2 separate regions of the Homo sapiens genome follow, and region 2 is linked to region 1. The links come from fine-mapping of genetic effects on gene expression. A gene starts in region 1. The other region holds a variant in brackets. All regions are shown on one strand. Distances are between the middles of the regions.

Region 1 (12,668 bases):
ACTTTCTGCTTAGTCCTCTTTCTCCTTCTTTCCCGGTGCACACCCTGGGAAAGGCTCTGCGAAGTCCCACAGTGTTTCTTTAGGAGACTGGGCGGCCCCTTGATTTATGTTCACTTGGCAACGTAAAATTGAAATGGCCTGAGGACGCTGAATAACTGGAAAAGGGAGATGGAGAGGAGGCCTCTGGGTGTCTGATTCCATGTAGCTCATGCCTGGCCCTTCCCCCGTAGACCAGAGCCACGGACCTTGGAGTCCATGGGCAAAAGGAAAAGCAAATGAGGTGGCTGGAGTTGGAAAAAGAAGTCCAAAATTGTTCAGAGAAACTAGCATCATCTGTTTTTTCTGGGAGCCTGACGACTTTGTATTTTTTCCTCCTTCTTCCTTTCTCCTTCTCTGTCTTTTCTCTAGGGATCGCCTACCCATTTTGGATTTAATGCATAACCCATGGGGAAAAAGCAGAAATTTTAATCCCCAATCCGGCCCATGGTAGGGGCTCCATAAATGTTAGTTGAGTTAAATACTTTTTTATAAAAGAAGTTGGGGCCAGGCACGGTGGCTCATGCCTGTAATCCCAGCACTTTGGGAGGCCGAAGCAGGCAGATCACTTGAGGTCAGGAGTTCGACACCAGCCTGGCCAACATGGTGAAACCCCTGCCACAACTAAAAATACAAAAATTAGCCGGGTGTCATGGTGCACACCTGTAATCCCAGCTACATGGAGGCTGAGGTGGGAGGATAGTTTGAACGCAGGAGGCAGAGGTTGCAGTGAGCCAAGATCGTGGCACTGTACTCCAGCCTGGGTAACAGAGCAAGACTCTGTCTCAAATCATAATAATAATAAATAAAAGAAGTTGAAAGTCAACTTTTTTTGTTTGGTTCTGTGAAGTGTCTTGCCTGGGCCTGCAGAACCTGGGCTCATATCCCTCTGAAAGCACGGCTTGCATCCCATATAAACACTTGTGTCTGTTCTCAAATTACATTTTGAGCTATTTGAGGGCAGGGACTCTTCTTCCCTCCTTGACTCTTTCTTTCCACAAATATTTATTGAACACCTACTGTGTGCCATCATTATCTCCCTTCCACTCCACCCTAACTATTAGCATGTCTGTCTTTGAATGTTCGGGTCTCAGTGTTACATGAATAAATAAATGAATGGAAAAATGGAGTTTTAGGTGGGACTCCAGGAAGTGGACCAGGGTCTGAGGTTCTCCTGGAAGGCTTACATGTGGTTAACATCTTAGAATTGGGGCCAGGTGCAGCGGCTCAGGACTGTAATCCCAGTGCTTTGGGAGGTTGAGGCAGGAGGACTGCTTGAGGCAAGGAGTTTCAGACCAGCCTAGGCAACAGAGTGAGACTCTGTCCCTACAAAATTATAAAAATAAAATAAAATGAATTAGCCAGGCATGGTTATGTGTTCCTGTAGTCCCAGCTACTTGGGAGGCTGAGGTGGGAGGATGCCACGAGCCCAGGACTTCAAGGCTGCAGTGAGCTATGATTGTGCCCATGCACTCCAGCCTGTGTGACAAAGCAAGACCCTGTCTCTGGAAAAATAAAAAAAATCTTAGAATTGGGATGGAAGGCAACAGAGAGACAAGCTGGTCTCGGGTAGGAATAAGGACTGATAGTGATCAGTACCAACTTGGCTGCCATTTTGCCTTATGACTGGAAGATGTAACTCTTTGGACTGCGGTTGTTCTATCCCTAAAACGAGAGCAACCTCAAGATTTCTTGCAGATTTAGAGTTCTAGGATTCTCCAGAAACATTTACCCCTAAAACCAATAAAGTCAGATCCTTCCATAAAAGAATTATGACACCACCAGATTCGTCCCCTGCACTTTCTCTTCTTGGACTGTCTCTTCTTAGTCTCCCTTGGAACTGGATTTGTCTTTTCTTGTTCAAGAATCTATACTGGCTCCCAGTTGCCTATCATATCTAATGTGCCTTCCTCTCCTTGGCTTTCAAAAAATACACAGTCTGTGCACAGCCTACAAATCTCTCTGACATGCATCCCAGCACACAGCAGTGGAAATCCTCCATTCCAGCGAGGCTGTTTCCTCTCTGCCCCGACTTCCCTTCAGACCTTTACATGTGGTTCCCTCATGGAGTGCCCCTTCCTGTTCCTTTTATGATATCTCAATCCTCCTGATGTCATAAAGTTTCCAATTGGAGCCAAATTTAAGTTGGTTTTGAATAGAACATCCAAAACAAGGACTTACTCCAGGAAAAAAAAAATTTACTCATATTTCCAGACTCAAAACAAACTCTGTGATTCTCTTGGTTAATTTCCTTCCAGTCTTTTTTCTTTGGAGATCTGAGCAGAATTTTAAAGGAGGAACTCCACAACTTACATAGCCATCACCTTTGGTTGGTTGGACATGGAGGTTGCTTCTAATCTTTCACCGTAATCTACATGTCATGACGAACATCCTGTAACTAAATCTTTTTATATGTCTTTAATTATTTCCTTGGGCTAAATTCCTAACAGGTGAATCATCAGGATTAAAGGCTCTTTGATGATGGGGGTGTAGGGTTGGAGGAAGAGGAACCACGCTGTGATCTAAATCCTTCTGTGAGTCCATGGGGCACACTGAGTGAGAAAGTGACAACCTCCATCTTTTTCTTTGGGAACTGGCCGGTTGAGTGGGTGTCCCAGCACCTTTGCATCCCTGCCTATCATTTTTCTGCCCAACATCAAGTTTCTAAGACTTCTAGAAGGTTCTTCAAAGGCAATAGGTAATGGAAAATGAACAGCCAGCATAGCTTTAGTCAGTGGCAACATTTGCCATGCAGTGGCTGAGGATTCTGGAGCTGAGACTCTGCTGAGTCTGTCCCCTCCATTATCCCCACCCCCAAACACCCCCATCCCCCACTCTTGGGTTGATGGACTATGGCACTTGGACAGACACATGTGATTGACTGTGGTATTAAGAAAATATGTATGACACAATGTTTTTTAGCTTTTTCCAGAGATATTTATATCACACAAATGGCATGTTGGTTTCTTTTTTTTTTTTCCATCTCAACCACTAAGAATGAATAAATCAATTGTCTTAATCAGGCTAATGGAGAGTGCATGGGCTAGAAACATAGGTGGGAGGGGCTCTTCATCTGAGCCTGTTGCTCCATTAGCAGGGGTAGAGGGGCCTGGCAAAGTCCCGTCATTATCTCTGGGCCTCTGTTTCCCTGTCCTTGGGATGGGCATCTGACCACTCATGACTTTGCAGGATAAAGATTGTCAGAAGCATTTGGAGTTCCTTGGAAGAAAGTAGCTGCATGAATTTTTAATCCTCTATTTTCAGCTCTTTGGAGCCGTGTGTAGGAGCAGGGCTGTAAACACAGAGAACTCACCGCTACATTCTAGTTTATAAGGTTTTTGTCTCACACAATCCCACAGACCTGACCTTAAGAACAACTCAAAATGTGGGCGAAAAGCAGTTTGTTGTGGTCGTCGTTATCACATAAAAATTAATGGCTTGGCAAACACAAGGATCATCCTGTCACGCTGAGGTCATGTTTACACCAAGCAAATATATTTCAAGGTTCCTAGAGTTTCAGCAGCACTGCAAGGCAGAATCAACACAATTCCCAAGCAAGACTCAGAATCCGGTGCCAGATTCACCCTGGTTCCAGAGGGAGACATTAGTGAGTATTAATTCTGCAATTAGAATGCCATCCGTTTCCAAATTCCTTATGGCTGAAGCAGGTTTTTTTGTTTTTGAGACAGAGTTTTTGCTCTGTCGCCCAGGCTGGAGTGCAATGGTGCAATCTCGGCTCACTGCAACCTCCATCTCCCGGGTTCAAGTGATTCTCCTGCCTCAGCCTCCTGAGTAGCTGGGACTACAGGTGCCCACCATCACGCCCAGCTAATTTTTGTATTTTTAGTAGAGATGAGATTTCACCATGTTGGCCAGGCTGGTCTTGAACTCTTGACCTCAGGTGATCCACCCACCTTGGATTCCCAAAGTGCTAGGATTACAGGCATGAGCCACAGTGCCCAGCCTGAAGCAGGTTTTTTAGTTCCTAACTTATTGAGGCCTGCTAGTGCCACTGATCAGTGAAAAAAAGAAAAGGAAAATTCATAAGGTCATAGGATCCACACTTGGATCTCATTCATTGCTTATGCATTAATTCACCAAATATTTATTGAAGTGGGCCAGGGCCTGAGATTCTCCCCGAGGCTTACATGTGGTTAACATCTTAGAACTGGGGCTGGGTGCGGTGGCTCAGGCCTGTAATCCCAGTGCTTTGGGAGGTTGAGGCAGGAGGACTGCTTGAGGTTAGGAGTACCAGACCAGTCTGGGCAACATAGTGAGACTCCATCTCTACAAAAAAATTAAAATAAAAATAAATTAACCAAGCATGGTCGTGTGTTCCTGTAGTCCCAGCTACTTGGGAGGCTGAGGGGGGAAGATGTTATGAGCCCCGGAGGTCAAGGCTGCAGTAGCTATGATTGTGTCACTGCACTCCCCAAAGTCTCTACCAGGGACTGTGCTAAGTGCTGGGGACACAGTGGGTGGCAAAAGCAGAATGGTCCCTTCCTAGGGGAAGGCTGTAGTCAGGTCAAGAAGATGGACATTAATCAGTAATTGCAAAAGGAAATGTAAAATTACAACCAAATTCGGAGCTGTGAAAGGAAGGCTGGGGGACAGATCATTGTCAGAGGAGGATCTGAGGTAGCCTTGGGGTACAAGTGGACAGAACCCAGTGGGAGGATGGGAAGGAGGAAGGCACTGCGTAAGCCAAGGTCCATGGTAGGACGGAGGGGCAATTTGGGGATATGAAAGTCCAGAGTAGCAAGAAGGAAGGGGAGAGAAGTATAAGATGGATCTAGTCTATGGCCATATGGACCCTGAACTCACCCCATCTCATCTAAAAGATGGAGCTAGGCACACCCACTGGGATGGCAAACATTATTATTGTTACTATTATTTTGAGACAGAGTGTTGCTCTGTTGCCCAGGCTGGAGTGCAGTGGCACAATCTCGGCTCACTGCAATCTCCATCTCCCAGGGTCAAGCAAATTCTCCTGCCTCAGCCTCCCAAGTAGCTGGGACTACAGGCACACGCTACCACGCCCAGCTAATTTTTGTATTTTTAGTAAAGACGGGGCTTCACCATATTGGTCAAGCTGGTCTCGAACTCCTGACCTCAGGCAATCCACCCCGCTTGGCCTCCCAGAGTGCTGGGATTACAGGCGTGAGCCACTGTGCCCGGCGCAAACTTTTTTTTTTAACAGAAAATAACAAGTGTTGGTTGGCAAGGATGTAAAAAATTGGAGCCCTGGTGCACTGCTGGTGAAAATGTAAAATGGGCAGTCACTGAGGAAAATAGTGTGGCGGTTCTTTGACAAGCTAAACACAGAGTTACTGCAGAACCTAGCAGTTCCATTCCTAAGTATGTACCCCAAACAATTGAAAACAAAGGTTCAGGCCAGGCGCGGTGGCTCACACCTGTAATCCCAGCACTTTGGGAGGCCAAGGCAGGGGAATCAGGAGTTGAGGTCCTGACTGAGGTCAGGAGTTCGAGACCAGCCTGGCCAACGTGACAAAACCCCTTCTCTACCGAAAATACAAAAATTAGCCAGGCGTGATGGCGCACTCCTGTAATCCCAGCTACTCGGGGGGCTGAGGCAGGAGAATCGCTTGAACCCGGGAGGCAGAGGTTGCAGTGAGCCGAGATTGCGCCACTGAATTCCAGCCTGGGGAACAGAGGGAGACTCTGTCTCCAAAACATAAATAGATAGATAGATAAATAAACAAATAAATAAATGCAAATATTCAAATGAAAACTTACCCACAATTGTTCATAGAGCACTATTCACAATAGCCAAAAGGTGGAAACAACCCAAATGACCCCTAGCCAGTGAATGGATCAACAAAATGTGGTCCATCCAGGCAATGGAACAGCACTGAGCCATAAGAAGAAAGGAAGCACTGGCATGCGCTACAGCATGGATGAGCCTTGAACACATGATGCTGAGTGGGAGAAGCAGACACAAAGATTATATATCGTAGGATTCCACTTACATGAAATATCCAGAACAGGCAATCCATAGAGACAGAGAGCAGATTGGCAGCTGCCAGGGGCCAACGGGAGGGAAGAATGGGAAGTGACTGCTAATGGGTACCGAGATTCTGTTTGGGGTGATGGAAAACTTCTGGACCTGGCCAGGCATGGTGGCTCACCCCTGTAATCCCAGCAGTCTGGGAGGCCAAGGTGGGTGGATCACCTGAGGTCAGGAGTTCAAGACCAGCTTGGCCAACATGGTGAAACCCTGTCTCTACTAAAAATACAAAAATTAGCCAGGCGTGGTGGCAGGCACCTGTAATCCCAGCTACTCGGGAGGCTGAGGCAGGAGAATCACTTGAACCTGGGAGACAGAGGTTACAGTGAGCCAAGATCATGCCACTGCACTCCATCCTGGATGACAGAATGAGACTCTGCCTCCAAAAAACAAAACAAAACAAACAAATAAAAAAAAAAAAAAGATGGTGGCAGCTCACACCTGTAATCCCAGCAACTGGGGAAGCTAAGGCAAGAGGTGTGGCAGCTCACACCTGTAATCCCCAGCAACTGGGGAAGCTTGAGGCCAGGAGTTCAAGACTAGTCTGGGCAACATGATGAGATTTGATCTCTACAGAAATAAAAATAAAAATTAGCTGGGCATGGGGGCAAGCACCTGTGGTCCCAGCTACTCAAGAAGCTGAGGCAGGAGGATTGCTTGTGTCCAGGAATTCAAGGCTGCAGTGAGCTACGATCACACTGCTGCACTCCAGCCTGGGCAACAGAGGGAGACCATGTCTTTAAAAAAAAAAAAAAAAAAAAAAAAAAGATGGCGCTAGAGAGACAGTTGATACAGGGTATGGATGGTGACCATCATTGATCATCATGGCTGCTGGTGGGTAGTGGATGGGAGTGAGAACAGCATTAAGAGGAAGGCCAGTGATGAGGCGGGGACAGTGGTCCAGGAGGAAGATGCAGGTGGCCTGGACCAGGGGGCACACAGTGAGCCACGTGTGTCAGGCAAAACCAAGAGGGCTTAGTGAGGATCTGGATGCACAATCATTCAATATAGACTCAACTCTGCCCCTCCTATTCAGCACCTGTATGCACTTATGGATGGGAGGAGAGTGTTGGAGGGAGAAAGTATATGTTCTCATAGGGATGCTGAAGAACAGGTCAGAAGACCCCTGGCTTCAAATTTTGACTTTTTCATTGCCAGATCCCGAGAGAGTAACTTCGTTTCTTTGTGCCTGTGTTCCTTCCCCTGTAAAATCAAGGCCCCAACATGCACTTCATAGGTCGTTGTGAGACGGGGACAACAGCACCTGCCCTGGCTACCTCCTAGGGCTCTTGGGAGACCCAAATGAGTTGTTAATCCTTCAAGGACAACACAGATCACGTTGCTGGGCTGATGTCATTGCTTTTGGAAAGCAGGTCCCTTGAACAGATTCTCCCAAAGCAGTGACTTTAGGAACATCTCGAAGGCGACAGATTCCAGTTGTTAAGGCTACGATGAAATAGCAGAAGACTCTGGGAAGCAGCGTGCAACGAGTGGCAAAGGAGCCCCTAACGCTCTTTCTTCTGTGCTCGCCCCGCCCCCTCCGGCGTGGGCCCCGCCCCGACTAAGCCCCAGCCAGGCCCCGCCCCCGATGTTAGCGCAAGCCACGCCTCCTCAGCTCCCAGCCTTCTGGGTCCGAGGCTCCCACCTGCTCTAAGCGCTTGGTACCAGGGAGGGAATGGGAGGACGCTTGCGGGATAGGGAGGCGGGGGCTGGAAATTGGCAGGGTGAGAGCTGGGGAAACTAGTCTGGGACGCAGCCCTCCTTGTCCCCCTTCTTCATTCACCCCCTTGTTGAGGCCCTTGGCTTTTGCATAATGTAAGTACTTATTTAATGCGTGTGCTGGCTCGAGAGCTCTGCATTTGTCTTTCTGTCCTTCATATGCCAGTGTACCTCCGCCTTCTGTCTGTCTAGGTGGGAGCTCCTGGAGAGGAGGGTGCTTCCCAGCAGTTGCTGTTCGACCCCCAGCCCCGGGCCAAGGGCACAGAGAGAGAGACAGAGAGGCTGGGGCTGCAGTGGGGGTGGGGAGGTGGGAGCTGGGGCGGGGCGGAGGGAGCGAGGGGGAGGAATGAGAGCACCATATGACAGGCTTGTGGAACCACATCTGATGCCAACTTGGATGCTGTCCTTTTTCTCCAATAAAAGGAACTTTTCACTTGTTTTTCAGACACCCTTTAAAAAAATGTATTTAAAGAGGCTGGTTCCTATCCATCCGACTGGAGGCATCTCAGTGCAAGAGCAAAGCTAAGTCCTGCACACGCTCCTCCCCTCCTCCTCCTCCTTCTCCCCCCAGGTTTTCCCGAATGTATCTACTCCGGTTACAACTAGACGCGGCCCCTCCCCCACCTGCCTCCCCCCTTCCTTCCCTCGATCGTGGAGGGAGCGTTCTCTGTGCCTTCCCAAGTCCCCGTGGGGGACCTTCTATGTTGGAGTGGGGGGAGGGGGGGAGGGTCATATAACGAAGGCCAGAAAGAACAAATTAGATAATCAAAAGAATTATAGTAATTGCTTTCACTTTCCCCCGCCCGCTCAGCGGATTCCCTCCCCCGCCCCTCCCCTGGTTTTTCTGTCTGTCGGGAATACTCGGTCTTTCCGACCCCCTCCCCTCCCCCAGGTTCCTCCTCTCCTCTCCCCTTGCTCGCGCGTTCCCTCTCTTCCTCCGTTTTCTGGTGTGCTGGAACGTTCAGCGGAATATGATGAATGATCACCTGTCACAGCTTGTTTATTATAATGCAGGCAATCAATTACACATCCCCAATGCTGGCCGGCCCGCAGGAAATTTATATGCTCAGCACAAACCAATGTGAAAATGGAATCTCATTTGCCAAATGTCTTTCTCCCCGTACAGCACGATGATTACAGTCTGTGTTTGTTTCAACAGTCGTGTACAACTGACAGTGCCATCATTTACTGCCTGGCTCAGGTCACGTTACTCTAAGGCTTTATTTATGGTGTTACGAAGGGCAGCACAGGAAAAGGACAAGGGTGTCTGTCAGGGATGGCACTGTGTTAAAAAGTGGGCGTGCAAGGGCCGCATTCCCGGGCAGCCGCTGCAACCTCAGCCCCTGGGCCCTTACCTCCGCAGCCTCTCCCAGCATCCAGCTACCCAGACTCCAAGGCCCCAGGCGAGAGCCAGCTCTCGGTACCTGGAGCTCCACAGGTCCCAGAATCGGGGTGGATCAGAGTTCAAATTCTGGTTCTGCTACTGTCTAATTGCGTGCTGCAGGGACTCAATCTCTTCATCTGGGAAATGGGAGTAATAACCCTTGGCAGGAATGTTGCGATCCTCTGGGATGTCAGAGGTGTTGATGAATGTTAGTTCCCGGGACTTCGGAAAGAGGTCCCGTTGGAAGAGATGTGAATTGGAATTCACACCCTATATTAAAATCTCCTCCAATCTTCACCTCTGAGACATGGCTGTCTCAAGACTGTTTTGTTTCCCTTCCTGGTGGAATTTTGCACTTTTATGTCCTGTGTAGCAGCAGGTAGTGTGGCTTTGAGAAAATAAAATGGCCACCTTGCTCCGCTGTTCTTTCTTTGTAAAAAAAAAAAAAAAAAAAAAAAAACGGCATAGCAATCTTGGCCTTTCTAGCTGTGTGACCCCAGGCCGGTCAATCCCTCCTCCTCTCCAAGCCTCGGATTCCTCCCCTGAGAAGTAAAGAAAATAACTCCTAAACTGCCTCCCGAGGCTTGCTGGCAGGATCCAAGGTGTCCAGAGATGTTAAAAAAAAAAAAAAAAAAAAAAAAAAGCCCAGTAAATGGGAAAGTGAGGCTGTCACTGCTGAGTGGCATCCTGTTTTCAGGAGTTCTGGTTGGTCCCCAGAGTTCTGCTACACAAAATGTTGACCCAAATTTGTACCCCCACAACACTTGGTGTCAAGTGGGAGCTCAGAAACTGAGGGGCAGGCAGATGCTTTTATGTGTATTAGGTTGTCTTTTATTGTATTGTATAGTTCCTTTTTTTTTTTTTTTTTTTGAGATGGAGTCTTGCTCTATTGCCCAGGATGGAGTACAGTGGCACGATCTTGGCTCACTGCAACCTCCACCTCCTGGGTTCAAGCAATTCTCCTGCCTCAGCCTCTCAAGTAGCTGGGATTACAGGCACGTACCACCATGCCTGGCTAATTTTTGTAATTTTAGTAGAGACAGGTTTTCACCGTGTTGGCCAGGCTGGTCTCGAACTCCTGACCTCAACTGATCCACCCACCTCAGCCTCCCAAAGTGCTGGGATTACAGGCTTGAGCCACCGTGCCCAGCCTGTACTATATATTTCTTTATTATTTGACACGTGTATTTGTTTAATGGCCCTCTGCTCCACCAGTATGGAAGCTCCAAAAGGAAAGATACCAGATTGATCTTGATCACCTCTGCCTCCCCAGCACCTAGTCTTCCTTGGCACATCGTGAGTGCTCGGTAAATATCTGTGGCTTTAATGGATGAATGAATGAATGACTACATGGCTAAACTCCATTCTAGGGCAACATCTGTGGTGCAGTGGATGGGCCCTAGTGAATGGATATTTAACGGATATCGTACTATTCCTCATCTCCACAGGGTCAGGCTGTGCCACATCCACCCAGCCTTGCCTGGGGTCATTTATCCTACATGTACTCAGATCACGTGAACTGGTGATGGGCCACCCATGTGCCTGCCTGGAGACTCCTATTCACCCTTCAGATCAATATCCCCCAAATAAACTCCCAGTCACTCTGGCATCCCATGTTGCTTTGTGATCTCTGCCTCTCTCTAGACCATTTGGCTCCTATGCACAGGCAGCTATGTCTTTTTCATATTTGGGTCCCCAAAATGCACAGTGCGGTGCCTGCCTCAAAACAAATGCTTTTCAATCCGTCAATCAATCAGTTGACATGGATCATCTTTTCTCAGCACTGATGTATGGACTACAACTTGGAATTCCATTAAAGCTCCTGGGGTCAAGAAAAAAAGTGATTCAAGTTTATTTATTTATTTTTTTTTGAGACAGAGTCTCATTCTGTCGCCCAGGCTGGAGTGCAGTGGCACGATCTTGGCTCACTGCAACCTCTGCCTCTGGGGTTCAAGTGATTCTCACTCATGCCTCAGCCTCCCAAGTAGCTGGGCAAGAGCCAGCACACCCGGGCTAATTTTTGTATTTTTAGTAGGGACGGGCTTTCGCCATGTTGGCCAGACTGGTCTCGAACTCCTGGCTTCAAGTGATCTGCCCACTTCAGCCTCCCAAAGTGCTGGGATTACAGGCATTTAATCACTGCACCCGGGTGAGCCACTGCACCCGGCCAAGTTCATATTCTAAAAGTGAAACATTAATGCTGCATTGTGTATTTTTTGGTCAAGTGCTTCAGATGTGTGGAAGGAATTTCTTTGTATAAATGCAATTATTCGTCACCATGATGATAATTATAACGAGGGTGACTGCACAGAACTGTGCCTCCCCAGCAAGCATGGGCTGGGCAGGGCCGGGTATTCCCTTCGCTGACTTGCTTCACTAGTTGACTAACAGACCTTATTCCCGGGCCTGAGCTGATGATATCCTGCCAATGCCAGCTTCCCAACATGGAGGGGACGCAAGAGCGAGCGCCATGGGATCCTGGGGGAAAAGCAGCCTGTGTTTGCTGCTGCTTTGACAGTTGAGGCTCTGAGAGGGACTGGCAAACAATGGGAAATGAAACATTTGAGTGGTTGCAAAAAATTCCATGGGAAATCCCCCCTGGTGGTATTTATGTGCGACGGCTGTGACAAGGAGAGCGCAGGGCTTTCGATTTCAAGGGTTCCTGAGCAGACCACAATGGCCTTCCAAGATGGCAATCCCCGGGAACAGCTCTCTCGGCCACAAAAGGCCAGTTTGTCTGTCCAGGGAAGATCTGGCCCCATGCATCAAGTTGGCCATGAGCTGCAGTGTCTTCTTTGGGGCATGACCCACATTTATAGGGTCTGGGCCTCTGAACCTTCTGCTCCTAAGACAGATCTATCTCAGTTGTCCCTCTGGTTTTCCCAGGCCTCAAGGACCTGGGGGCTGATAGGGGCTGAGGGGTTTCCCTCGGGCTCAGCCTCCATCTGCAGAACTGTGGGAACCTCAGCCTCCATCAGACCCCTCCCCATTTTCTGGTCAGCACGTGGCCTCCTCCTGTTTCCTCCATTCCCGTTGGTAATGGACATTTATTTAACTTTTACTCCCCCTCCATTCTCATTTAGAAAAGAAAGTGAACTGATATTAACCAATCTTTGTTTTGCCTTCTTTAACACTAATGCATATGCAAAATAGTTACCACTATTGATAATATCTTATTGCTGCTGTGATATATGTGTGTATATGTACAGATCTGCTTGAAGGTAAGCTTTATATAGATTTTTAGAGATACTTGGTAAATGAGAAAATGGAAACTGAAAGAGGTTAAATAAACTGCCCATGTGTATTGGTCATGAGGTTTCAGTTGCAAAGTGACAAAATCCTGACTTAGATGAACTTAAACCGGATGGAAAATGTACATTGTATTATTTGAGAAGCAAGGTCTGGATAAGCTTCAGGCATGGCTGGATCCAGGCCCTCAGTTAAGTCTTTAGGAATTTCCCTCTCTCTAGCTTTTTGGCTTTGCTTTTCCCTGTATTGGTT
Region 2 (12,668 bases), 24 kb after region 1:
CTGAAATGATAGTTAAATCGATGGAGAGGCACTAAGCTATAGCCTGTGAATCTGGGCATCCGTAAAACCCAATTATTAACAGCCCTGAGTGGATGCGTTGCACGCTGGCTCTCCCAGCTTTGACTGGGGCTCTCTCTCTCTCTCTCCAGACAGAAACGGCCCAAGAGAAATGGAAATATGATGGCTGGTTGATTGTTTCGCAGTCTGCATGACAGACCACCCTCCTAACAAGACTCTAGGTCAAGTGCTCTTCTCTGCCCTGTGGATCTACTGGGGAGAAATTAGCTCTCGGTGGTATTTCCAATTATGGAGAAAAGCGATTCCTCCCTGGTCTGGCTATCATGTGTTTTGCAGTGGACCAAGAGACATGAAGCCCGTTTTCCACCCTCGCCTCTTTCTCCATCTAGCTGCATGACCTTGGGAGGTGGCGTGACCTCTCGGCTTCTTTGCTGCCTCATCTGTCATGATCCACCTTTACTACTTCATAGCCATGTTCTAGGATAAATGAGAGAAGCCTCTACATCTTTTAGTCTCCCAGAAAGACTGGAACCAGGTAAATGCAAAGTGGAGCCGTTTCCTTTGTTTTTGCTGCCTGAGTTACTAACGTGTGGGATTTTTTTTAATAATGGCAAAAATGGATGGATTTATGCAATTACTTTTGTTTTTGTTTTGTTTTGTTTTATTTTTCCTCTGGGGGGAGTCTTGAGGCATTCTAGGCATTCTATACATTATTCTCTTGTATAATTGTTCATCTCTTCTATGGAGTGGATATTGGTATGCCCCTTTCTTAGCAAACTGATGGAGGCTGGCCTCAAAGTGAGCCACAGTGATGGGCTATAACTAATTCCTACTCATAACTCCTAACTAAGTTTAATGTCTGTCTTCCCTACCAGTGATGAGTTCCATGAAGACAAAGACCTGTTTATCTTGTTCTGCTCCAGCACCGAGCAGGTACTCAGTAAGAACTTGTAGAATTAGTGGATGGATGGATAGATGAACAGATGAATGGATGGATTAACAGATTAATAGATGGATGGATAGACAGAGGGATAGATGGATGGATGATGGATGGGTAAGTGGGTGGATGATAGACAGATGGTTATGATAGAGGGATGGCTGATTGGATGAATAGATGGATGGATAGATGGATGGATGAACAGATGGATGGGTGGATAGATGGACAGACGAATGGATGGATGGATGGATAAAATGATGCATGATAGATGGATGGATGAAAATGGAAGGAATGGCTGGATGGATGAACAGAAGGATGGATGAATGGATAGATGAATGGGTGAATATAGTTTGTATATGAACATGAATCACATTACCAGTACTTATCACTGAGAGAAAGTTCTAAGTTGCAGATGTTCAGAGAAATTTAAAGATGCAGACCTAAGATACAGGCCAGAAGGGCCATGCTGTCTCTAAGTCCCTGGGTAGAATCCTTCCTTGCTTCTTCCTAGCTTCCAATGGTGGCCATAAATTCTTGGTGTTCCATGGCTTGTAGCTGTGTCTCTTCACTCTCTGCTTCCATCACCACATGGCCTTTCTCCCTGTGTGCCTCTGTCCGCTCATTGTTTTCCCTCTTCTTAGAAAGACACCAGTCATATTGGATCAAGGGCCCACTCTACTCCAGTATGACCTCCTCTTAACTAATTATATCTGCAATGACCCTGTTTCCCAACAAAGTCACATTCTGAGGTGTTGGGAATTTGGACGTCAACATATCTTTGGCAGGGGACACAATCCAACCCATAACAATCTGTGACATGGCAACCCCTCTCCCGGGTGTGTATCCTGGGGAAACTCCTGAATAGGATCATAAGAGGACGTGTGTGAGAATGTTGGTGGTGGCCAAGTTTGTCCCAGCAAGGAGCCCAAGGTGACCTACATGTCTATGACTGGAGGAAATGAGTCAGCCAGATTTGAAACATGCAGATGATGAAATAATACACAATACCCTGAATTTGCATACATCATCATGGATAGAGCTTAAAAATACAGTGTGAAATGAAAAAAGTAGGAACTAGACTGAGATTGATGACACAATACCATGGACATAAATTTAAAATATACACTCACAGAGCAAGACTATATATGTTTCATAAGCATTGGAAAGTGGGTTGGAAGGATTTATTTTGAAGATACTGGAGTCACTGCCTGTGGGAGGCAGTGAGAAATGCTAACAGCAGACGCAGGCGAAAAATAATACAAGAAGGCACAAGGAGGGCCTTGAACAGACAAATAGTGAATGTGTGGCATAAACTGAGAAGTGTGATTCTACGAAGGCGCCCACCCGGGGTCCAAATTTTGCAAAGAGGGGAGGAATCAGGAAAGGGATTAATGAGTGACAGTGGCGCCCAGGGCTGGGCGGAGTCCAGGTTCTGTGAGCATGCGCAGCAGGGCCCCTTGATCCACGCTGAGCTTCAAGAAAGAGTGCGGAGAAAACCGCCCTAAGCCCAGACGTGGAGGGGAATTGGAGCTGTGCAAGTCAAGAATTAAGCAGGCAGGGCCGAGCAGAAGGAACGGATGGTTAATAAGCCCCCAGGAGAGCCCAGGCTGGACCAAGTGCATCCGCCTGGGGAGAAGGAGAAGGGTACGGTCCGCATGGCCCCGCTGAGGAAGGAGTGGGGACAGGGCTGGCTGTGTGTGTGTCACCCACTCAGACGCCCACAGGGACCAGGTGGCGGAAATGAGCGAATGACCCAGGCGCATACTAAACACTTCCACAAATAATGATGGGCCTTTCTATATTTAAGAAACCCAGGGCCCCCCCAAGTCTCTATTTCTTTTCCTCCCTTTTGATGGAGACACGGGGGCTGGCTTCTTCTCTAAGAAAAACAATAGCGGCGTGTGATGAGAAGTGGTAGCCAACTCAGCCATGGGGGAGACATCAGAGGGGTAGGGCTTGGGGAGGACAGGAAAGGGACGTCCCAGCTCCATGGGAGGGCTGCTGCCTGGTAGCTTCAGAGGATGCCTCCGCCCGAATGTGGTCCCGATGTTGACAGATACTTCCTTTTCCAAGAGAAACTGTGAAACTGGATTTTTATTGGAAATCTTTTTATTTGACATAGTAAAATCTAACTGAACGACAATGAGGTACCACATCACACGCACTAGGATAGCTATAATAAAATAGAATGGAAAATACGAAATTTTGATGAGGAAGTGGAGCAGTTGGAACCCTTGTACATTGCTGGTAGGAAAGTAAGGTGACCCACTCACTGTGGAAAAGTTTGGAGGTTCCTCAGGAAGTTAAACATAGCCTTATCATATAACCCAGCAATTCCACTCCTAGGTATATGCCCAAAAGAATTGAAAGCAGGTACTCTACATGAAGACAAGTACATCTACATGCATGTTCCTAGCAGCGCAGTTCATGATCACCAGGAGGTGGAAACAACCCAAATGTCTGTCATCATGTATGCTGCAATGTAACTGAATCTTGAAAAGGTTATGCCAAGTGAATGAAGCCAGACACTAAAAGTCATACATTGTATGATTCCATTTATATGAAATGTCCAGAATAGGCAAATCCATAGACGGACAGCTGACGAGAGGGTTGCCAGGAGTTGGAGGGATGAGGGTATGGGAGTGAATAAGTGCTGGGTAATGGGTTTCCTTTTGGAGTAGTGAAAGTGTTTTGGAACCAGATAGAGGCGATGGTTACACAAGATTGTGAATATTCTAAATGCCACTGAATTGTTCACTTTAAAATGCTGAATTTTTGCCAGGCACAGTGGCTCATGCCTGTTATCCCAGAACTTTGGGAGGCCGAGGCAGAAGGATCACTTGAGGTCAGGAGTTTGAGACCAGCCTGGCCAACATGGTGAAACCCCATCTCTACTAAAAATACAAAAATTAGCCAGGCATGGTGGTACATGCCTGTAATCCCAGCTACTCAGGAGGCTGAGGCAGGAAAATCTCTTGAACCCAGGAGGTGGAGGTTGCAGTGAGCCAAGATCGCGTCACTACACTCCAGCCTGGGTGACAGAGTGAGAGTTGGTCTTAAAAAAAAAAAAAAAGAAAAACAAAACAAAAACAAACAAACAATGCTTAATTTTTGCCAGGTGCAGTGGCTTATGCCTGTTATCCCAGAACTTTGGGAGGCTGAGTCAGGAGGATCACTTGAGGCCAGTTCAAGACCAGCCTGGGAAACATAGCAAGAGCCTGTCTCTATTGGGAGAAAAAAAAAAAAAAGGTAATAAATAAAATGCTTAATTTTATATTATGTCGATTTCACCTCAATTTTTAAAAAACTGGAAAATGTAATTCAAATATATAAGGAAAAACATGTCAGCCAAATGGATTCAGGCTGTAGGCTGCATCTGAACCCCTGGGGTGCCAGTTTCTAAGTTTGATATGGGGCTTACAGTCAGCAGGAGCCCCATAATCTTGTACAGAGCTGTAGGAATAGGAACTGTTTTACTGGCAGGGAAACTGAGACTCCAAGGAGGTAAAGTGATGGGATCAGAGTCAAGCGCAGGAGCTGGAGCTGAGCCCCAGAGGGTGATCTCCCAGCACAATTGATCCTGTGCTCTCTGCAGTTGGGGCCAAGGGCTGTAGAAAGCATTAGAAAGGTGGCAGCTATTGAAGCAGGTGGCAGAAGGAGGATGCCTGGAAGTTCAGACAAGAACTGTGCATCGAAGCCAGGCACGGTGGCTCGTGCCTGTAATCCCAGCACTTTGGGAGGCTGAGGTGAGTGGATCACTTGAGGTCAGGAGTTTAAGACCATCCTTGCCAACATGGTGAAACTCTGTCTCTACCAAAAATATATAATAATTAGCCGGGTGTGGTGACGCACGCCTGTAGTCCCAGCTTCTTGGGAGGCTGAGGCAGGAGAATCACTTGAACCCAGGAGGCGGAGGTTTCAGTGAGTTGAGATCGTGCCACTGCACTTCAGCCTGGGTGGCAGAGTTGAGACTCCATCTCAAAAAAAAAAAAAAAAAAAAAGAAAGAATTGTGCATCCAGATCTCCTTGGAGTTGTTACCTCCTCTCACACAAGGCCCAGAAAACTCTATCAATTGAAGCCCATTCAGCAAGGCTGGATTGAGTATGTACTGTGCATGTGGCATGCACCAAGTGAAACTAATAAAAGTAGTCAGTGCAAAGGCTTAAGGGTTCACCTTGTGCAAAGCACATTCTGTTGAGACCTCCTCTGATGCTCAGGGTAATGCTGTGAGGTGGAAACAGCATTGCCACATGGATTGCATGCATGCATTTAACTTTTATACCATGCATGCATTTAACTTACATAATGCATGCATTAAACTTACATAAATTCAACTAACTGCAGTTGGCCAAAAGGAAAGGAGAAAAATCCTCATTGAAAGGGGGTAGACCTGTCGTGTCCCCGTGCGAACTTGCCACACGGGAAGCATGGAAATGGAATATATGGATCTGTTCTCGTTGTCTCCAATCCTGGCAGCCTTTCCTAGAATGAGCAGCTCTCTGTGCTGAGTGGGATTCTAGCTGAGGATTTCTCAGCCTTGGCGCTACTGACATTCTGGGTTGGATCATTATTAGTTGTGGGGACTGTCTAGTGTGTTGGAGGATGTTTCGAGGCATCTCTGGCCTCCATCCACTAGATGCCAGGAGCGTTTATTCCTACCCCTAGTTATGACAACCAAAAATGTCTTCAGGTGCTGCCACACATCCCCTGAGGGGCAAAATCACCCTGGCTGAGAATCACTCATCTAGAG[TTTAAAATGCATATTTA/T]TTAAAATGCATATTTATTGGTGCTCAACTAAGGAGCAGGATTGGAGGTGGGGGATGGGGAGGATGGGGAGGTGGGTAAATGGCTGCATTATGATGATAGTATTATTGTTACAGGAAAGTGGTCCCAATCCAGACCCCAAGAGAGGATTCTTGGATCTTGCTCAAGAAAGAATTCAGGGCAAGTCCATAAAGTGAATGCAAGTTTATTGAGAAAGTAAAGGAATCAAAGAATGGCTACTCCATAGGCAGAACAGCCCCAAGGGCTGCTGGTTGCCCATTTTTATGGTTATTTCTTGATGATGTGCTAAACAAGGGGTGGATTATTCATGCCTCCCCTTTTTAGACCATATAGGGTAACCTCCTGACGTTGCCATGGCATTTGTAAACTGTCATGGTGCTGGTGGGAGTGTAGCAGTGAGGATGACCAGAGGTCACTCTGGTCACCATCTTGGTTTTGGTGGGTTTTAGCTGGCATCTTACTGCAACCTGTTTTATCAGCAAGGTCTTTATGACCTGTATCTTTTGTTGACCTCCTATCTCATCCTGTGACTTAGAATGTCTTAATCATCGGGAATGCAGCCCTTTTTACCCAGCTCCTATTCAAGATGGAGTTGCTCTTGTTCACAAGTCTCTGACATTACGACAATTTGCTGACTTGTGGCTGTGCCATACCTTGTGGAAGGGGGCGGAGTTAAGGGATTTTCACGGAAATGTTTTCCTTCACCTTGACTTTAGAATCTAGTACCCATATATGCTCACTGCAACTCAAGTCCCACAGGTGAGAAAATGGGGGCCCCAGGGAGTTAGTCACTTGCCTAAGGTCTCAGAGCTCATGAGTGACAAAGAAGAGATTCAAGCCCAATCTACTTTACTAGGAAACCCGCTCCCTTTTTTTCCCCCCTTTTTTCTTTCCCTTCTCTCATTGTTTTGCCTTCCTGTCCACAAGAGGGGTCTAAGGGAAATCAGCGTGCCAGAAGGTAGAGTCTCACCACAGACTCTCCACTACTGCAGGTGGCACTGAGTGTCATCGGCCTGCCTCACAGTTCTGGATGAGGCCACAGGTAAATTCAGATTCCAAAGGTTTATGAAGCTGGTATGACTTAGGACTCTTCTAGCTGCAAGAGACAAAAGCCTAATTCAGACTAGGTCAAACCAAAAAGGAACCATATTGACTCACATAACTAGCAAGTTGAAGGGGTGATGGCTTCAGGCATGGCGGGATCAAGGGGCTCAAATGGTCATCAGCATATGATCTCTCCATTTTTGGTTTCATCTCTGTTAGCTTCATTCTCTGAACAACTCTTCCTTCCATTATACAAAGAGAGCCAATGGCAGCACTGAGTGTAAAACTTGAGCTTTTAGAAATCCAGCAGAAAGATTTCCTCCCTCCTAAGAGATTCATCCAACATTCCTGAAATTCACTCTGATTGTCCCAGCTTGAGTCCCAGGGATGTTTCCAGAAATGAATCACTATGGCCAGGGGCATATGAGACCCCATGATCAGGCCTGGGCCACCTCCTCACTTCCAGAGTTTGAGAGTAAGTTGAGCCCCAAATCTTACGGAAAAAAGAGTGGGAGGAGGAAGAGTAGTATTCTGTGGCCAACCTAGAAAACCACAGAAATTCCTCCCACCTTCTGCTCAGGCCAGTGGGAAACTTGTAAGACAGAGTCCCAGTCCATGTGAGTGGCGAGTGGGGGCATCTTGGGAGGGGCCTTCCAAAGGCAAAGCCAGGCTGGTTTGGTGGAGTCCTTTCCAGAACCCATCTGCTTGTGTAAAGCCTAGCAGAGGCCACCTTCAGCAGCCCTCCCGGATACTGGTTAAAGTGTTGTTATTGTTTGAGACAGGGTCTCACTCTGCCACCCATACTAGAGGGCAGTAGTACAATCTCGGCTCACTGCAACCTCCACCTCCCGGGTTCAAGCGATTCTCCTGCCTCAGCCTCCTGAGTAGCTGGGACTACAGGCATGTGCCACCGTGTCCCGCTAATTTTTGTATTTTTGGTAGAGATGAGGCTTCACCATGTTGGCCAGGCTGGTTTTGAACTCCTGATCTCAAGTAATCCACCCACCCTGGCCTCCCAAAGTACTGGGATTACAGGCATGAGCCACTGCACCCGGACTTAAAGTGGTTTTTAAAAAGTGCCGTGTGAGACTTCCAAATAGTACTCACGGGGAGGGAAATGAAAGGAGAGGATTGGGGAAGAAACACCTTCTATTTTTTTTTTTTTTTTTTTTTTTTAGAGACAGGGTCTTGCTCTGTCACCCAGGCTGCAGCCTGGACCTCTTGGGCTCAAGGGATCCTCCCACCTTAGCCTCCTGTGTAGCTGGGACCACAGGCGTGCACCGCCACACCCAGCTAATTTTTTTTATTTTTTTGCAGAGATGGGGTCTCTCTATGTTGCCCAGGCTGGCCTCAAACTCCTGGGCTCAAGTGATCCTCCCTTCTCGGCCTCCCAAAGTACTGGGATTACAGGGGTGAGCCACCTCACCTGTACAGCTTCTTTGGAGAATGGGCCTGGGCAGGTCAAACAGGGGCCACTCTACACCATCATGGCACAGCAAGAGCTGGGCTATGTAGGTTCAGTATTCTTTGTCATTTAATCCTTGTGACGACCTCGTGTCATCATTGCTGTTTTACAGATAAGGAACTGAGGCTCAGAGAGGTTCAGTGTCACAGCTAGCATTTCACTTACATATCACAGAGCAAAGGCTCTCTTTGTCCAGAGACAACGTGCCTTTAGGTGATAGAGCTAGGACTGGAACCCAAGTCTATCTGACTCAAAGTCCACACAGCTTGTCCCCCATCCCGCAGGGACCTCTCCACGCTAGTGAGCCCCACGAAACCCCCTCAGTGCTTCGTTCCAGTCTTTTACCTTCAAGCCCAGTCAGCGAGTTCTTTATTTCCACAAATGGTGCTATTAAACTAATGGCTTCGGGAGCTATAGGCTGGCCTCGGCACAGTTACACATCTCTCCACCCACCATGTTCTGGCTTCCAAATAAATACATTGGAAATTCCAGGAGCCGAAGCCCATTTGGAAACGTTTCCGGGCCACCATTTTGCTTTGGGATGGGCAAGAAGAGACACCCTAAACTTGAACTCCTGTCTGTGCAGCCTCCAGCCGGCCAGGCGCTAAATAAGGCCACGGCCCGTTTCCTCCTTCAAAAGTCCCTTGTAAAGGGCGATAGCAGACCCCATCAGGCAAAAAGCTGAGAAGCCAGGGTTGAAATAGAGGCCTCTTTCTGTTTGGTCAATCAGCAGCTGCAAAGGATGCGTAGGATGGAGCTAAATTTATTTGTTCCTTTCTTTCTCAGCAACAGCGACGAGGCCCGAGGTGCAGCTGTCTCGCCTCGCCTGTCTTTTGCAGGCACCGGCATGCACAGAAGATGGCTCTCCGGGAGGAAGATTCCTTTCCATTTTGTTCTCTCTCTGCCTCCGCAAGGCTCGCAGCCACCTCTCGGGAGTGCAGGGCCAGATCCTGTGCCAGCGGGTAGGAATATGTAGCTGCCTCCCAGCCCCAGGGTGGAAATCATGACCTTTGAGAAGCAGGCAAGCTGCACGGCATAGATACTCAGGCCTGGTGAAGGCAAAGTGGGGCCACACCCTAGAAAAACCACAAAAGTCCCCACAGCCTCTGCTTTCACTAGTCAGACCTGTGGGAAACTTGTAAGACACAGTCCATGTGATCGGCGGGTGGGGGCATGTTGGGAGGGGCCTTCCGAAGGCCACAGCCAGGCTGGCAGGGCAGAGTCCTTTCCAGAATTTATCTGTTTGCTTAAAGCCCAGCGGAGGGGCCACCTTCAGTCAACCCTCCAGCATACTGGTCCAAGTAGTTTTTTCAAAGTGCTTTGTGAGACTTTCAAAAGGTACCCATGGGGAGGGAAGTGAGAGGAGGAGGAGGGGACGGTGAAGAAACAGCTTCTTTATTTCTAGCCTTGCTTGAATGGCTTCTTGACGGTTACTGCTCCAGTTTTGCTGAGTCAGAAGAATCCCACAGCCGCTCACCGGAAACACAGCTGTTGGGCAAAAATAACCACAGAGCTGAGCATCATGCACCTTCCAGAAAAGATGGCAGAAAACCTCAAAACAAAAGAGAAATACAAAACAATAGGAGACACTGTCAAGAAAAAAAAAACAAAAACAAAAACCACCGCAGCTCACTAACCGATCCAAGCTGGTGGCGCTCTCCTGATCTCTCTCCACTCCCAGGCCCAGCAACGGCTCTGAAATAAAGCTAAGTTTGGCTATATATATATATATATATATATATATATATATATATATATATATATATATATGTATGTATATGTATATATATATATTTAGATAGAGTCTTCCTCTGTCGCCCAGGCTGGAATGCAGTGGCGCGCTCTCGGCTCGCTGCAACCTCTGCCTCCTGGGTTCAAGTGATTCTCCTGCCTCAGCCTTCCGACTAGCTGGGATTACAGGTGCGCCACCACGCCCAGCTAATTTTTGTATTTTTAGTAGAGACGAGGTTTCGCCATGTTGGCCAGGCTGGTCTCGAACTCCTGACCTCAAGTGATCCGCCCACCTCGGCCTCCCAAAGTCTTGGGATTACAGGTGTGAACCATCACATCTGGCCTACTTTTACACTGTAGTGGGTTTAATAGTGTCTCCCCAGTCACACCTCCACCAAAAAAAGAAAAGATATGTCCACAGTCTAATGTGCTGCAGCACCTGTGAATGTGACCTTAATGGAGAAAGGATCTTTGCAGGTGTAAATTAATTTTAGGATCTCAAGATTGAATCATCCTAGACTACCTGGGTGGACCTCAAATCCAATGACAGGTATCCTTATAAAAGGAAGGCAGATCCAGCTTGGGCAACATAGGGAGACCCTGTTTCTACAAATAGTTTAAAAAAAAAAAAAGGCTGGGCATAGTGGCTTACACCTCTAATCCCAGCACCTTGGGAGTCCAAGGTGGGCAGGTCACTTGAGGCCAGGAGTTCAAGACCAGCTTGCCCAATATGGCTTAACCCCATCTCTACTAAAACTACAAAAATTAGCTGGGCATGGTAGTGTATGCCTGTAGTCCCCGCTACTTGGGAGGCTGAGACACAAGAATCACTTGAATCCGGGAAGCAGAGGTTGCAGTGAGCTGAGATTGTGCCACTGTACTCCAGCTTGGGCAACAGAGCACGACTCCATCTCAGAAAAAAAGCTGTGGGGGACAGTGGTGTGTGCCTGTGGTCCCAGCTACTTGTGAGGCTGAGACAGGAGGATCTCTTGAGCCCAGAAGTTCGAGGCTGCAGTGAGCTATGATGGCACCACTGTACTCCAGCCTGGGTGACCAAGTGAGACCCTGTCTCAAAATAAAAAAAAAAAAGTGTGGCAGAGGTAGATGGGTAGATTAGACACACAGAGAGGAAGTCCCAGAGGAACTTGGAAGTGAGGATTGGAGTTTTGCAGCTACAAACCAAGGATATTAGGGCACTCATAAGAAACTAACAGAGCCACCCCAGGCTTCTGTTTACCAGGTCCTCCCCTGGCCATCTCCTTCCCCTTGTCTGGGCTGAAAACATTCACAGCATCTTGTTTGCGTGGACACCGAGTTTCCCTTTCCCCAGACTTCATAACGATCAGGAAGCAGGATGGGGCCTTGAGGACTCCCGAGACTAAGGGAGGAGTCGAGGGTCCCTGGTTGTAGATAAGTCTTGGCCACAGGCCAGGAGTGTGACCTCATTAACCAGCAGCCATTAGCCATTCACTGAGGCAGCTGGATCCTGGTTCTGCCCCTTACTAGCTGTGTGGCCTGGGGTAAGGTATTTACCCTCCCTGGGCCTCTGTCTCCTCATCTGTCCAATGGAGATAATTAGAAAACTTCCCTTACACAGTTGTTGTAAGGATGGAGCAAGTACATGCAAAGCTGTTCTTGAACGAGGCTGGACTCTGTGCTTCTTATTGTCCAGTGCTTTACACAAGTGTAGTAAGGCTATTGTTTTTCCCTGTCAGCATCTATGACACTATCTTTTGCTTCAGCATCCTGGCTTGCCTTCGGGAGACCATCTCTCTTCCACCCCCTCATTCCAGGAGAGGGTATATCACCCAGACCTGACCAGTCAGACTCAGCTCAGTTCAGGGATGGGAATGTGATCCAAAGTGGGTCCATCAGAGCAAATAGTTGCCGAAACTCGTAGGGAAAAGAAATTCACTTTCTCTTGGTTCCACTATGTGGTGGGATATGAGCGTGGAGCATCTCTGCTGCTACCTAGGGAGAGGCTGCCTGAGACCGATGCCAAAACCCCAGAAAGCAGAGATAAAAGATAGTGGGAGAGTCCTGACAACAATATTTGTATCCCTGGATCCACCTGTGCCTGAAACCATCCGTAGCTCCAAACTCGCAAGTTCCGTGAAACAATAAATCTTTATGTTTAAGACAGTTTGAGTTGATCACTTGTAAACAAAGGCATCCTGACTCATGCAGTGTCTTATGTGATAATCTGAGCAGGAGGTAGACCTCTTATCCCTATTTTATGAGAAGAAACTGAGGCTTAGAGTAACTTAATCACTTGCATAAAATCACTAGTAAGTCCAGGGCTGTCGTCTGATCCATGTAGCCCTGGGAAGGTAGAACGATGATGTGCTTGGTGCATGCCTTGGGAAAGTCACATAAATCTCAAGGCTTTGAGTGGCCAATCTGTACCATAAAAGAGTTGGTATTTTTTAAACTTTCAAATGTATAGCTGATTACAAAAGTGACTATGACAATTAACTATGTATTTGCTCTCCATAACTGACAGATGTTGGCATTTTCTCACAGTTGCTTCAGAGATGAGCTGGTATCTGAAATACTATATAGCTCCTCGTTTCTGTGTCTTGATTCTGGATTGTAAAACACCTAGAAAGTCTGACTTGGCAAAACTTGAAAAAATTTCAAAGATACAGAAGCATTTTATATCTACTCACTTATTTATGATTTCTGGC

The links. PIP is the estimated chance that this variant, and not a neighbour inherited with it, causes the effect.
Region 2: its variant is fine-mapped to the expression of LINC00173 in cerebellum (GTEx, PIP above 0.99). The same link has a PIP of 0.9 or more in sun-exposed skin.

Annotation. Positions count from the first base shown.
Region 1 is chr12:116,525,738-116,538,405 of GRCh38, forward strand. LINC00173 (long intergenic non-protein coding RNA 173) reads left to right here and starts at 7,698. Exons shown (of 3, transcript NR_027346.1): 1 at 7,698-7,879; 2 at 10,383-10,474; 3 at 10,616-10,776. RefSeq lists enhancers at 2,059-3,258, 9,073-9,607, 11,648-11,877 and silencers at 7,509-7,710, 7,615-7,664.
Region 2 is chr12:116,550,222-116,562,889 of GRCh38, forward strand. It overlaps MAP1LC3B2 (microtubule associated protein 1 light chain 3 beta 2), which reads left to right and starts at 9,160. Exons shown (of 2, transcript NM_001085481.3): 1 at 9,160-9,212. RefSeq lists enhancers at 8,655-9,164, 9,004-9,343, 9,564-9,613, 9,654-9,753, 11,243-11,537 and a silencer at 11,243-11,537. The variant TTTAAAATGCATATTTA/T (reference allele first, on the strand shown) is at 5,707.